Linked DNA regions of Homo sapiens: regions 1, 2 and 4 are each reported to be linked to region 3. Evidence: microRNA targets listed by miRTarBase, many of them from high-throughput screens and not tested one by one. Region 3 holds a microRNA gene; each other region holds the end of a gene's coding sequence.

Region 1 (3,000 bases), not on the chromosome of region 3:
AATATTGGTCTGAAATATTTGTGCTAACGAATGTTGTTACCTGAAAATAACAACACTCCTCTCCAGCAGTTTCAGGGCATGAGAAGCACAATTATTGAAATCAAGACTTTACTCAGAGAATCGACAAGGTGAGTCTAAGGAACTATAAAGCTTTGCAGGATTTCTGCTACTCTCAGTGCCTAACCGCTTAAAAATTAAGCATTTCTACAAAAAGGTTTGTTTTAAAGTATCTGAAAACAGTCATCTCCAGTAAGTTGCCCTCCCACCCCCAACCCTGCCTAAGGGAAAAGCCACTGAGGTTTAGGAAAAGCAGATCAAGTAAGATATTAATCACATAGAAAAAAAGTAATCTTTTGTTTTGCTTTTTTTTTTTTTAAAAAAGGTCCCAGGAATATACAGCAATCTCGTAAGGAACTCTAGTGAAATGTAATCGGAGGACTGAAGGAGGGTGCTCTGGCAAAAATAGATCTATTCTAACGTGTTCTATAGAATAACAAGTTAGTACCATTGTCAAGGTGCATGTTCCGCACCATACAATTTTTGTTGTTGGTTTTTTGTTTTGGATTTTAGCTAATTATAATCTTCAAATCACTGCTAGCGAGTGGTCCAAAACTCCAACAGCCACCAACATCGGGACCCAGCAATTTCAAACATTCACTTTTTGTTTTGAAATTTAGAAAATATTAATAAAACAGCATCATAGTAAAAATATTATGCAAAAGTCTGGAACTGCTCACTTGATTTATTCCTACATGAATGGGGTTAAGTTGTAACGTTTGATTAACCTTTTACTAATGCCTTCTTCCTCCATCCCCACCAGGAATATGCATTTTTGAGCACATCATTCCGATGCTTTGCTACCCTCTTTACCTGCTTTGGAAAAAAAAACAAGAAGAAAAACCTCTATTTTTTTTTCAATCCTGTTAGTATGTTGTACATATTTTCCAGCACCGGAACTGAAGTAATATCTACAACCATGAGAAGCTAAACCTAGTATGAATAGAGTCATTTTTTGTATGGCTATTACGTCAAATTACAATTAGAAAAAAAATCATTACAATTCAGTCAAGTATAAATAAGAAAGCTAGATAAAACCATGTAAACTGTCACCATTTAGAGATCTAATTCAAAAGCTTCAAACTCGAACTAGCACTGTCAAAATTCCGCCAGTTTGAAAACCATTAAAAATTATTGCTGGAATCCAATAATTAAAATTTGGTAGTTTGTGCTGTGACGCAAGAGTGGGGAAATACTTTGTGCTATAGAACAAATACCCTGTAAAATCTGTAGCCTCAGACTAATTTTGATTTATCACTTTGCATCTGTTGCTAGGAAACAAGACACTGTGAATGTCAGGTGGTTAAGTCAATATGTTGAATGTTCTAAGCCAGTTAATCCACTTGGCGCTGCTTATGTATGGTTGGTTTTATGTTCAAAAGCAACAAAACACAAAAAGGAAACAGAGACTTGCAGGTGGATCTATGACTGAGAGTCCCACTCTGGTCAGGCATACCTCCCTCATCATTGACTCAGTACCTCCTAAACAACACAAACTCAAAATGGCTCTAAAAACCTGCAGTGCCAATCAGGCTGTGCATAGCAATTGCAACCCGTCCAGCCAATCTGTGATGGATGTAAAAGGTCTGTAGCTCCAAGTCCACATGAAGTGAGTGTCTTCAATGTGTTTAGAATAGTGAAGTAATACTAAGGTCACTTCTGAATAATATTTTTGTCTTTTTTTTTGTTTGTATGAACAATCCATTGGTCACTTAGACCCCTATGTAAAAATAAAAGAATCCTCAAGGCATGAAAACACCAGTAATCTGTAATCTGCAGGACTCTTCCCCTGTCTGGGAAAATATTTGCCACAATTTGCCTCAAGCAAATTCTTCTTGGTCACTCAAGGCTAAGAAAAAAATTCAGATTGTAAGAGTTGTAATTTTTTCTCTCTCTCTTTTTTTTTTTTTTTTGCCAGCAAACTACCATTCTGGTGGCAAATATAAAAGTGCAGAATATATGGACCACGAGGCCGAGCATACACCACTAACAATGGTACATCTGCCTGCCCAGGCTGCTTGGGAGTCTCTGGAACAGGCTTTTTAATATTTATTCTACAATATAAATGTAGGTATAACCTATTATATAAACCATCTTAAACTTAAATCTCCATGTACAAAAAAGACTAAGAATATCTAATAATAACTAGTGCAGTGCGTCAGTTTTTGTTTTTTTTTTGTTTTGTTTTGAAAGAATAACTAGGTAATATATGAAACTAGTTTCACACTCTCTGGTTGGTAAAAGAGATGCTGGGTGAGCTACAGTAAAGGCAGCCTTTTACCAAGTTACCACCTATTACCGTCAAAAGCCTTCAATAGAAAGCAAAGCTCCAGGATCATTCTGTTTCTGCTCAGTATCAGACAGATAACCTTACCCTCAAAGATTCTGGGTTCTGAGAGAACAAACTGGCCCAGGATGCTAACTTCTGCTTCAAGTGAATCTGGGCCGTGTGGGGCAACAAGCACTTGTTTGCAGTCTATATTTTCCACCACTTGGACTCACTAGCATCCCTCGGTAAAGACAAGGCTAGGGTAGTAGGTAAAGCACAATGTTTTACAATGAAAGGGCGCTTCACTGGTCAGCGCAGGAAATAAGTACAGGAGCCTGCGGCATTTCTTTTGGCTGTCCATCATGGGTGAGCGGAGTTGACCTCTGACCTCTGTAAAATAAAAGGAAGAAAAAGTCACTTATTCAGCATATGTTATTAGAGACAGGAGAGGACGATGAATAACAAGTGTGTTCCAATATCTTGTTTAACAGTTACTGCTGTTACTTACATCATTTAATGAAAACTGTTTTTGCTTTAGAGTTTTTTCTCTTCTGTCCCCTTCCTTATCCTTTTTTTCCCCTTCCTCCTTCCCATTCTGTCTCCCTTCCTAAGATTTTATATCTGAATTCCCCTCATACAACTCAACAGCATACCCTCTGGCCTCAAACAACTAA
Region 2 (3,116 bases), not on the chromosome of region 3:
CATGTTTTTATAATGAATTCCTCAACCAAGGGAACTAAGGGACTTGCTGTTTCCTTACTGTCACCTGGGATTCTTTTTGCTGTTTTCTACTTTCTGATTGCTTTTCTTCCTGCTAATTCAGTTTCATCTTCTCTTTTCAGATGAAGCTACTAAACTTATACATAAAGAGGGCCCAGACCACCAACAGCAACAGCAGCTCCTCCTCCGATGTCTCCACGCACAGCTAATGGCAGTACCTGTCTCTTGTGTAGACCTAGAAGCAATCGGTGGTGCCTCTCAGAGACCTTTCCCCACCCCCTTCATCGGCTGCCCAGTCAGTACAAGGAGGCCCACAAATATTTATTACAATCAGTATTTTGGTCCCTTCCAGCTTTTCTGTAGAATCTTACTGGTATTGAATGTAAAGGAAGCAAGGCCTGTATTGCAGTCTTCATACAAAACAAAAGGAATAAGAACAGAAAAGAGCCATACTGAAACATGTCTTGTACAGCCTGCTGAGATGGCGAAACCCTGTGTGTGGGGTGCAGTTTTTAAAAATCAGAGCGCTCTAGCCACTACTTGGTAGAAAGTAGCATTTTTTTTTTCAGTTAATAACATATTTGGGGGTGGGGTGGGGTGTTACTTTGTGTTCTTCCTCCTTAGCCTATTTTCTTGTGCGTATGGTCTGTGTGGGGCCCCTTTCACAGCTGACACCACGAAAGGTGATATATCTTTAAGTTGTGTTCTGAGACCTACTAAAAATGGGAATCAAGTCTTGGCAAGAACAGTCTGAAGATGGCCTTTTAACAAACGCTGGGAATTTTGCTTGTCATATCCAGACTGGAGGCCGACTGCCCTGGCTTTCAGCGTAGAATTGGGAGTGCACCCTGACAGTCTCCTTCCAGCTCTCCCTAATCGACTCCACCGACAAGGTCCCTACCCCAGAGCTTCCATGCAAAGGAATTCTTCAAGTTTAAATCTGGACACAAAAATAAGATAAATGTATGGCATCATTTAGGGATGCCTGAGATGGCAGTTCATGAAGCACAGAAGATAAAGAAGAAGTCTTTCATCTTTACTGCTGAGATCCTTGGGAACACTGTTGTCATGGGGGCTCTGCCAAGACCCTCATCTCTGGGCTACACGGTGATTCAGATTGAGCACCAACTTGTTTCCTCCCCTCAAAGTTCTGCCTAAGCCGTTCAGTTCTAACATGGTCTCAGTTAATCTGGTAAATGGCATCTTTACCATCTTAGTTCTGACTTCTCAGTTTAATGTGGGATTAAGAGCCAAGAAAAGCCTAGAGAGACTGGATATCACAATTTTTTTTAATTTTATAAACTGAAGTAGTTCCTTGAATGTCTGTTGATGAAATAGTCACTGTTTAAGGAAAAAAGTAATTATGAGGTGTAGCAGATTGCAGAAAAACAGGATTAGAAACACACTTAAAAAGAACACACATTTAGAGTCTCTCTTCCTCCTCAGCGAACCACTAGGCCCCCTTTTTAAAAACACCTTTAGAGCCTAATTACTCCAATAAAAGTAACTAGAGGTTTGGAGTCTGGTTAAATAAATTCTGAGTAAAATTCTTAAGCCAAATGGAAATTCTTAATGCAATCATGAGGACTTCTATTGTCTCTTACTGTTGTATTAGATCCTATAAATTGAACTGATTTTTCCATAAGGAAAATGCTTCTTTTGAGATTAATTCTAATAACGTATTTGCTATTGCAGTGCAGAGCCCACTGCAACTGCTAGGACTGAAAGCAGAGGCTGGGTGCCAGAGCACGTGATTCTTAACATCATTTCCACAGACCCCTCTGCCCTGACCCTCTGCATTGGATGCAGGAAGCTGGGAAAGACTGATGTTGATTTGGAAACATGGGCTGAAAATGAAGGCCCCATAGTGCATAGGAACAGTAAAGCCAGGGTGCTGACGTGTGTGTGTGTGTGTGTGTGTGTGTGTGTGTGTGTGTGGTGTTGTGTGTGTTTGTGCGTGCACCCTACACATGTGTGGTACCTCACTGCTGCTGTTTAGGGAACTTGAGGGACGCGTTTCAAGGGGTTGGGTATTACTGACGAGCTTTGGCTCAAAATATAGCAGGACCAGGTCTTTTGTTGATAAGTACTGTTTGTTTATTAATATGTCATTAATGGTATTTCTTTTTTACACTCTACAAGTGAATTAGGGAGTCTCTTGTTGACCCCTTTGTTGCAGGAATGTGCGTCGGGCTAGGTTATCCATGAGTTTCTTTATTCCTAATGCAGTTAGAAAGACCTTTCTCCTTGAGCTCTTTGACTCCCAGAAGGTACCCCAGTCCCCAGTGTACTTAGAAAGGATCTCGAACATTGCTGGACGTCCTCATAGTACTCACAAAGGGCTAGCCTTGAATGTCACTCGCCCAGTCTTCAGTCTCCTGACTTAGAGATACAATCACGTCACAGGTCTCTTGGCCTCAATCTGAAAACTGCTGCCGCCGCGCCGAGGAGACTCGCATGCCGCCACCACCTCACTGGGAGGGCGCCGAGCCCACCGTCGCCCCCTAGACCCTGACAGCTGCAGCTGCCTTGCCTTGCCGCCGCCTCCCTGCAGGGCCCCTGTTCCAATGAAAAACAGAACACAAAAGAGCAGAGCACCTAAGCCTGTCTCTGCCTCCCTGTCTACCGGACTGGCCAGGGCCCAAGACCCCCGCTGCTCCACTGCGGGGCTGGGCGGGCTGACTCCCTGCTTCCTCCAAGCTGCTGCCTCCCCTGCAGCCAGGGTCTGGGCAGGGTGCAGCCGGTCCTCGGGGCACGCAGCTTCCTTCAAGTACACTGTGTGTGCTTCCCGGACCTGCGGCGATGCCACGGGCCTGCCTTTTCTATGCGCCTCACTAGCTTACCACCCTGTGCAGGTAATGCAACTGACTTTGTCTCATCAGTCTTTTTCTTTCCCTGCCACCCTTTATTTATCAAGCGTAATGTTACACTTTAAAGGACAGCAAATAAGAACTTTGTAGAATCCCACCAGGACTTTGCTAACAATAATGTTTGGAAATAAAGAAGTGCTCTGAAAAAATATCAGCCACCAAAATAGTTATGTTGGCACTGTGTTCACACGCATGGTCCCCACACCCCCAGGTTGGGTGGGTTTTTTT
Region 3 (3,125 bases):
CTGGCCGCACCAGGTTCCCACAGGTATCAGATGAAACCCGGGTAGGGACCCGCAAGGGGCCAGCAGCCGTGAGCTGTTGTTATTTTTCTGAGTGTATAATACTCAGTCTCTAAATAGGGAAGTTAGAGACTGAGCAATGAGTGTATTCACGGTAGACAGGCATGGGGGACAGTCCATGGGCCTTGGTCTGGGAGCCCAGTGGTGGCCAGCACGGCTGGAGAACGGTGGGCAGCGCCGGACCCCACCTGCCTTCTCAGCGGCTTTCTGTAGACGCGAGGCCGTGCTAGGGAAGGTGTCTCAGCCCCGCGGTGGGGTGGGCAGTGCCCTGCAGATGCCGTTGAGCGGGCTTTCATCGGGGAGGTGAGCCGGCCGGAGCAAAGCATCGCCCACCTGTGCAGCGTCAGACTCACAGAATCGCTAACACACAACGCTCAGGGAGAAAAGCCAGAGTCACAGAATCGCTAATGCACAACGCTCAGGGAGAAAAGCCAGACTCATAGAATCACTAAGTCACAATGCTCAGGGAGAAAGGCAGAGTCACAGAATCACTAACACACAACGCTCAGGGAGAAAGTCAGACTCACAGAATCACTAACACACAACGCTCAGGGAGAAAGTCAGACTCACCGAATCACCAACACACAACGCTCAGGGAGAAAAGCCAGAGTCACAGAATCGCTAATGCACAACGCTCAGGGAGAAAAGCCAGACTCATAGAATCACTAAGTCACAATGCTCAGGGAGAAAGGCAGAGTCACAGAATCACTAACACACAACGCTCAGGGAGAAAGTCAGACTCACAGAATCACTAACACACAACGCTCAGGGAGAAAGTCAGACTCACCGAATCACCAACACACAACGCTCAGGGAGAAAGTCAGAGTCACAGAATCACTGACACACAACGCTCAGGGAGAAAGGCCAGACTCACAGAATCACTAACGCACAACGCTCAGGGAGAAAGAGTCACAGAATCACTAACACACAACGTTCAGGGAGAAAGTCAGACTCACCGAATCACTAACACACAACGCTCAGGGAGAAAGGCAGAGTCACAGAATCACTAACACACAACGTTCAGGGAGAAAGGCCAGACTCACAGAATCACTAACGCACAACGCTCAGGGAGAAAGGCAGAGTCACAGAATCACTAATACACAACGGACAGGGAGAAAAGCCAGACTCACAGAATCACTAACGCACAACGCTCAGGGAGAAAGGCAGAGTCACAGAATCACTAACACACAACACTCAGGGAGAAAGGCCCGGCTAGGAAGTGGCGAGCCAGCAGGTGGTCGGCTTGTTAGGGCTGTGACAGAGTCCACTTTGTCTCTGCCGAGGGCTTACTCTGCTGCAGGGAGCTGGGGGCCCTGTGCACACATCCAAGGAAAACACCCTTGTTGTCACAGCCGAAACAACAGACGCATGAGAGATTGATTTTTGAAAATATTATTCCCGAAATCTAAACATCCAGGGGGCATTTCCTGGCAAGCAAAGGCTGTTTGGGCCTCTGCATCTGCGGCTCTGGCGTCTGCCTGGGGCTTGGCTGAAGCCCTGTCAAGGAAGCACTTCTGAACCACGAGGAAAAATGTCCTGATTTGCATATTGTCTTCCACCCAAAGCTGTCGCCTGCGTCCCTGGCTCGCCCTGCCCAGGTGGGCTGCGGGTGGGGAGTGGCCACCCAACGGTGACTCAGAGCACTCCAGCATCCTGACTCTTGCTCCGTATTACATCCCATGAACCTGGTGGCTTCCTTTTCTGGGAGGAAGTTAGGGTTCACGTCCATCACAAGACAAGTCTCCCTCACAGCCCGATTGACCCCAGGACAGCCTGTGCCTGGGGGAGCACGTTGGGGGGCTATGGGCCCCATCCTACAAGGTCTCTGTGGGGTGGGCGGGGGGTAGCACATGAAGGGGCTGCGGGCTCGGTCCTGCAAGGTCTTGGTGGGGTGGGCGGGGTGGGGCCCCAGCGATGGCATCCGGGACGGTGCAGTCTGGGAGGGGCAGCGGGACCTCGGAAGGGGGCCTTGGCCGCAGGTGCCCCCGGAGCACATTTCAGGCCCCACAGTCCACACCTCTCACACAAGCCCCCCAAGCACGGCGAGCGGGCAGCACGGGGCTCTGTGTGCACACGGCAGACTGAGCACTGCTGGGCGCTGCCAGGGTCACGTTGCCCACAGGGGAGCACAGACACCCACGGGACCGAGCGCCGGCTGCAGGGCGCGTGCCAGCGGCCCGCAATGATGTCCGACTGCAAAGGGACAGGAGGCCTCAGGCTCACTGGCCTCTGGGTTCCCCACAACGACCCCCAACGGGGAGGCCTCTAGGTTCTCAACTGGGAGGAGGGGTCCTGCCCCTGGGGAGGCGGGGGCAAGGGTGAGGTGAGGGTCCCAGAAGGCAGGGGCCGGGGGCAGGAGGCGGCTGAAACCAGCGCTCTGCTGGGGTCCAGCCTGGTGGTCCCAGCTGTCCACACGGCCTTGCTGGTGGCTGGTTCAGGGCCCTCCCACAGGGAGATGTGGCTTGAAGACAAGGGCCCCGCCCCACTGCACATCTCCCAAGCCATCCTCAGGGCCCAGCTTACTACCATCTGTGGCCTCCGCACACCTAAAATCCAACACACACCCCAAGAAGACAGGGGCCCTGCCAGGGCTGGAGCCAGGGACAGCTGGGGGCCGGAAGTGAGCATGTGGGGTCCTGCTAGGTCCCAGGGGGATGCGGAGGGGGCTGCACCACCCACAGCACTGCTGAGGAATGCCATTCCCTCAGCTCCGCGTCCACCCCGGGTCCCCCTTCCTATGGGGGTGCTGACCTGAGTCCTCACTTCCGCTCTGGGTTTTCTCGCAGGAGTCTGGACAAGCAGCTGGACTCGGGCAGGTTGGGTCAACTCAGGATGTCCTCGTGCGTGAGCTACAGGGTCACAGGCCAGGGTCAGAGGCCAGGCCTGAAGGGGACACCTGGCCCCGCTCGGACAGGGAGGAGAGCACTGGTCCCCAGCAGTGTCCCAGCAGCCAGCCTCCCTCCAGGTGCCGTCTCAGGCCTGCCCTGTCTGCGCCCAAGTGCCTCTGCAGGGCCCCAGGGCTGGGAGGTCACAGAGCAGTGGCCAGGACAGGCTGGATGGGGCCGTGG
Region 4 (3,105 bases), not on the chromosome of region 3:
GGGCTCATGCCTGTAATCCCAGCACTTTGGGAGGCCAAGGCTGGTGGATCACTTGAGCCCAGGAGTTCGAGACCAGCCTGGGCAACATAGTGAAACCCAGTCTTTACCAAAAATACAAAAATTGGCCAGTCTTGTAATTTGGGTCTCAAGCAAGAACACTTAACAGCATACCTGAATTTGACTAGTGACCTTCAGGGTTCATTCAGTTCTCATAAAATCTCCTTACACCCTTTTACCTGTAGTAAAGACACTGAGACTTGCTTGACTTACCATTAGCAAAAACTTCCCTGCAATTGAGGCAATTCTTTTTCCTCCTAGAAGAAACACCATCTGGAAAATAGCCCAAGCTAGGATAAAGTTTTTACAGCAGAGTCAAGTTATACAGTCTAATAACTAGAAATTTCTAGGTACTTCTCGCAGAGAATGAAAGTGGGAAGGAGTTTTCTAACACTGGGGCTTTCTTTCCCTTGTCTTTACAAAAGACAAAGCCTAGGCAGTCAGTCAGTAGCACTAGAGTATTCCTTATGGGCATTAAGAATTTCTCTTGTTTCCTGCCTCAATCCCCCTTTCCCATCAGCCTACCACTTGCTTGTCTCCTACACCAGAAAAGGATGCAGACCACCTTTTGACCAGGGCTCCCTTCTCACACTATCACCTAGTCAAATTTCTAGTTTTACGTAGTCTGCCCCTACTGCTGTCACTGTGGCCTCTTTATCTCCACCACATCTGACATTTAATTATACTCTTCTGGGAATTCTGTTCACTGGGCTTCTTAATCCTCCCCCAACCCTCGTTTTCTTGTATCTCCTGTTAGTCTATGTATTTTTTTCTAAATTAGAAATACTTTCTAAAAAACTTCCCCCAAATCAGTTCTTAACCATCTTTAGTTCACGTGACTCTTGACTTTTTGGGTGATCTCACTTACTATACCACGTTGATTCCAGATCTGGATTTTCTGGGCAATTTAATGTGTCAAAACTTACCTTTCACTGAAGCTATGAGCATCTGTCCATGTGCTGAATTAGAAACTTGAGTCATCCTCTCTAACAATTCAACTGGTCTGTCTGTTATTTAGAACCTCCAAAAGGCCTGGATTGTTTTTCCTCCCTCTACAATGGGTCTAGATCTTGTCCCTCCCTCGACTAGACGGCCGTGACTGTGGGTGCCATTAGACACACACAGCAGCTCAATCAGGGCTCAGGGAAGAAGGCTTGTGAACCCTGGGCAAAATCTTTTAATCTCTTAGGCTTATTTCCTCAATTGTAAGAAGTACAAATAATAGTATCTATACTTTATTCAGCTATTGGGAAGATTAAAAAGAAAAATATACACATTGGGTACATAGTAAACACTCAATGGTCAGTAACCTGTCTTTTGAAGCTTTACCTTCAAGGTCCAAGTTAAAGTATCAATTCTTCAAATACAATTTTTTATATTGGTCCAGCCAAAATTAATCTTTCCCTTATTCATACACTGGTGGCATGTTTTTAGAGCTCTATTATAGAAATCAGTGCCTTTAAGTTGTTCATATATAGGTCTCTTCTAATAAATTTGATGGCAGGGATTAGGTTTTTAGTTTGCATCCTGTACAAGATCTTTACCACAACAGGTTCAAATCATGTGTTCATAATATAGTTCTTATGTTCTGGATTTTTTCTTTTTAAAAAGTAACAGAAAACTTGTTAAATTTGTCCACCTAAAATTAATAGGCTAAAACTGAAAGCATGAAGTATTTACCAAAGTGAAATCTCATTAGTGTAATAATCTACCACTACTCTGTTAAAGAACAGATTTTTGTTGAAGTATATATTTTCATGCAAATAATCTGTTCTCATTTACATGAAACACGACAGATGAAATCTTTCAATAAATCTAACTTAAACTATGCAATATCCGTAAGTATAAACATTTTATTTCAATTTAAGGTAGTAGCAATACAAAATAAGTTTTGATAATTATAAAGTAGAGACAATGAAAAATCCCACCCTATTTTTAGAATTTTAAAATATTGAGCATCATTCTGTCCTGATGGGTTTTTATGTAAAGTGGGAATTTACATGACACCAGTATCTTGGCAATTCACTTTTTTTGAATGCTACATATCCCAATCACCATATATTAAATTCTCTATTTTCTTCAAAGTGCTATTGCCACAAGAGACTGAACGATACAGCAATTTAAAAAAAGACCACACAAACTAAATTGTAATGTCTTCAATATCTCAATTACTGTTTTTTAAAAATAAAAACTGCAGTAGTGAATTTCTTTAAGTTCTTGCTACATGATTGAATGGGAGATAACCTCAACAATTTTCATTCTTAGGCATGAGCATCTTCATGCTAAGGTAGTCTATACTTAAAAGCTTTATTCTTTCATAACACCTGGGCAACAAATATTTTAAAATCATAAATAATGCAAAATTAAAATCAGTTATGGTGGCACAATTCATTTGGTAACTAGTTGCCCAAGATGTATAGTAGAATCAAGCAGGTTTAACTTCCACATGCTCTGCAAAAAAGGGAAACAATGGAAATATTTCGGTATATTAATCTAGCCCACTATTCCACTCAAGGAATCTATATCCTTTCTTTTTCTCATCTGGTCTCAGTTCCTTTATCCTCTTAGCAAAGGCATCTCACAGTGATGACTGAGTCTAATTTTAATCATATGCACTTTTTATACAAAATGGCCCCTAAAATGCAAGCCAACTCTATATACACAAAACCATGTAAACGGTACCTCTAGGTGATTTAGGTAATTCTGACTATATACAGTTCTTACCAAACACCCTGACAAGCACCAGATTCCACTGTAACACGTTTTTAGAGATTTAATTCCATTCTGATTGTTCTGCTTACTGTCCTGAAGATTTGCGTCCTTATTTGAAGAACTGATGTTTGGTAAGTATAAAAGCCAGTAACTTGAGATTTCTCCATCACTGAAGTTGTGTGATCTTGATGGGGATAATACTATTAAAGTCCAAGAAAAAAGGTCCTTCTTGTTTAGGCAAAAAGGTACTAGGAATGATATTGAAGATCCCAGAAGGTATATTTTCTAATTCCAGGTAGCAAAACCCACACCTATATTTAGAGAAAATGAGAATAA

The links. Region 3 holds the annotated microRNA hsa-miR-4456 (CCUGGUGGCUUCCUUUU, at 1,742-1,758, shown strand). A microRNA usually pairs through its seed, bases 2 to 8, with sites in the 3' UTR of a target mRNA and lowers its output. Matches are read on the target gene's strand: a 7mer-m8 pairs with bases 2 to 8, a 7mer-A1 pairs with bases 2 to 7 and ends in A, and an 8mer does both.
Region 1: miRTarBase lists BBX as a target of hsa-miR-4456. Seed matches in the 3' UTR shown: 8mer at 1,987-1,994.
Region 2: miRTarBase lists CLASP1 as a target of hsa-miR-4456. Seed matches in the 3' UTR shown: 7mer-m8 at 2,983-2,989.
Region 4: the mRNA of CAPN7 is a reported target of hsa-miR-4456. Seed matches in the 3' UTR shown: 7mer-m8 at 1,474-1,480.

The regions. Positions count from the first base shown.
Region 1 is chr3:107,805,086-107,808,085 of GRCh38, reverse strand. BBX (BBX high mobility group box domain containing) reads right to left here. Exons shown (of 18, transcript NM_001142568.3): 18 at 1-2,716. The coding sequence ends at 2,629. Among named protein-coding and RNA genes, the nearest start is that of LINC00635, 71 kb to the left of the region's middle.
Region 2 is chr2:121,337,972-121,341,087 of GRCh38, reverse strand. CLASP1 (cytoplasmic linker associated protein 1) reads left to right here. Exons shown (of 41, transcript NM_001395891.1): 41 at 141-3,116. The coding sequence ends at 227. Among named protein-coding and RNA genes, the nearest start is that of TFCP2L1, 54 kb to the right of the region's middle.
Region 3 is chr5:534,494-537,618 of GRCh38, reverse strand. MIR4456 (microRNA 4456) reads left to right here and starts at 1,737; the gene lies at 1,737-1,779.
Region 4 is chr3:15,251,091-15,254,195 of GRCh38, reverse strand. It overlaps CAPN7 (calpain 7), which reads right to left. Exons shown (of 21, transcript NM_014296.3): 21 at 1,280-3,080. The coding sequence ends at 2,936. SH3BP5-AS1 (SH3BP5 antisense RNA 1) reads right to left here and starts at 12. Exons shown (of 3, transcript NR_046084.1): 1 at 1-12.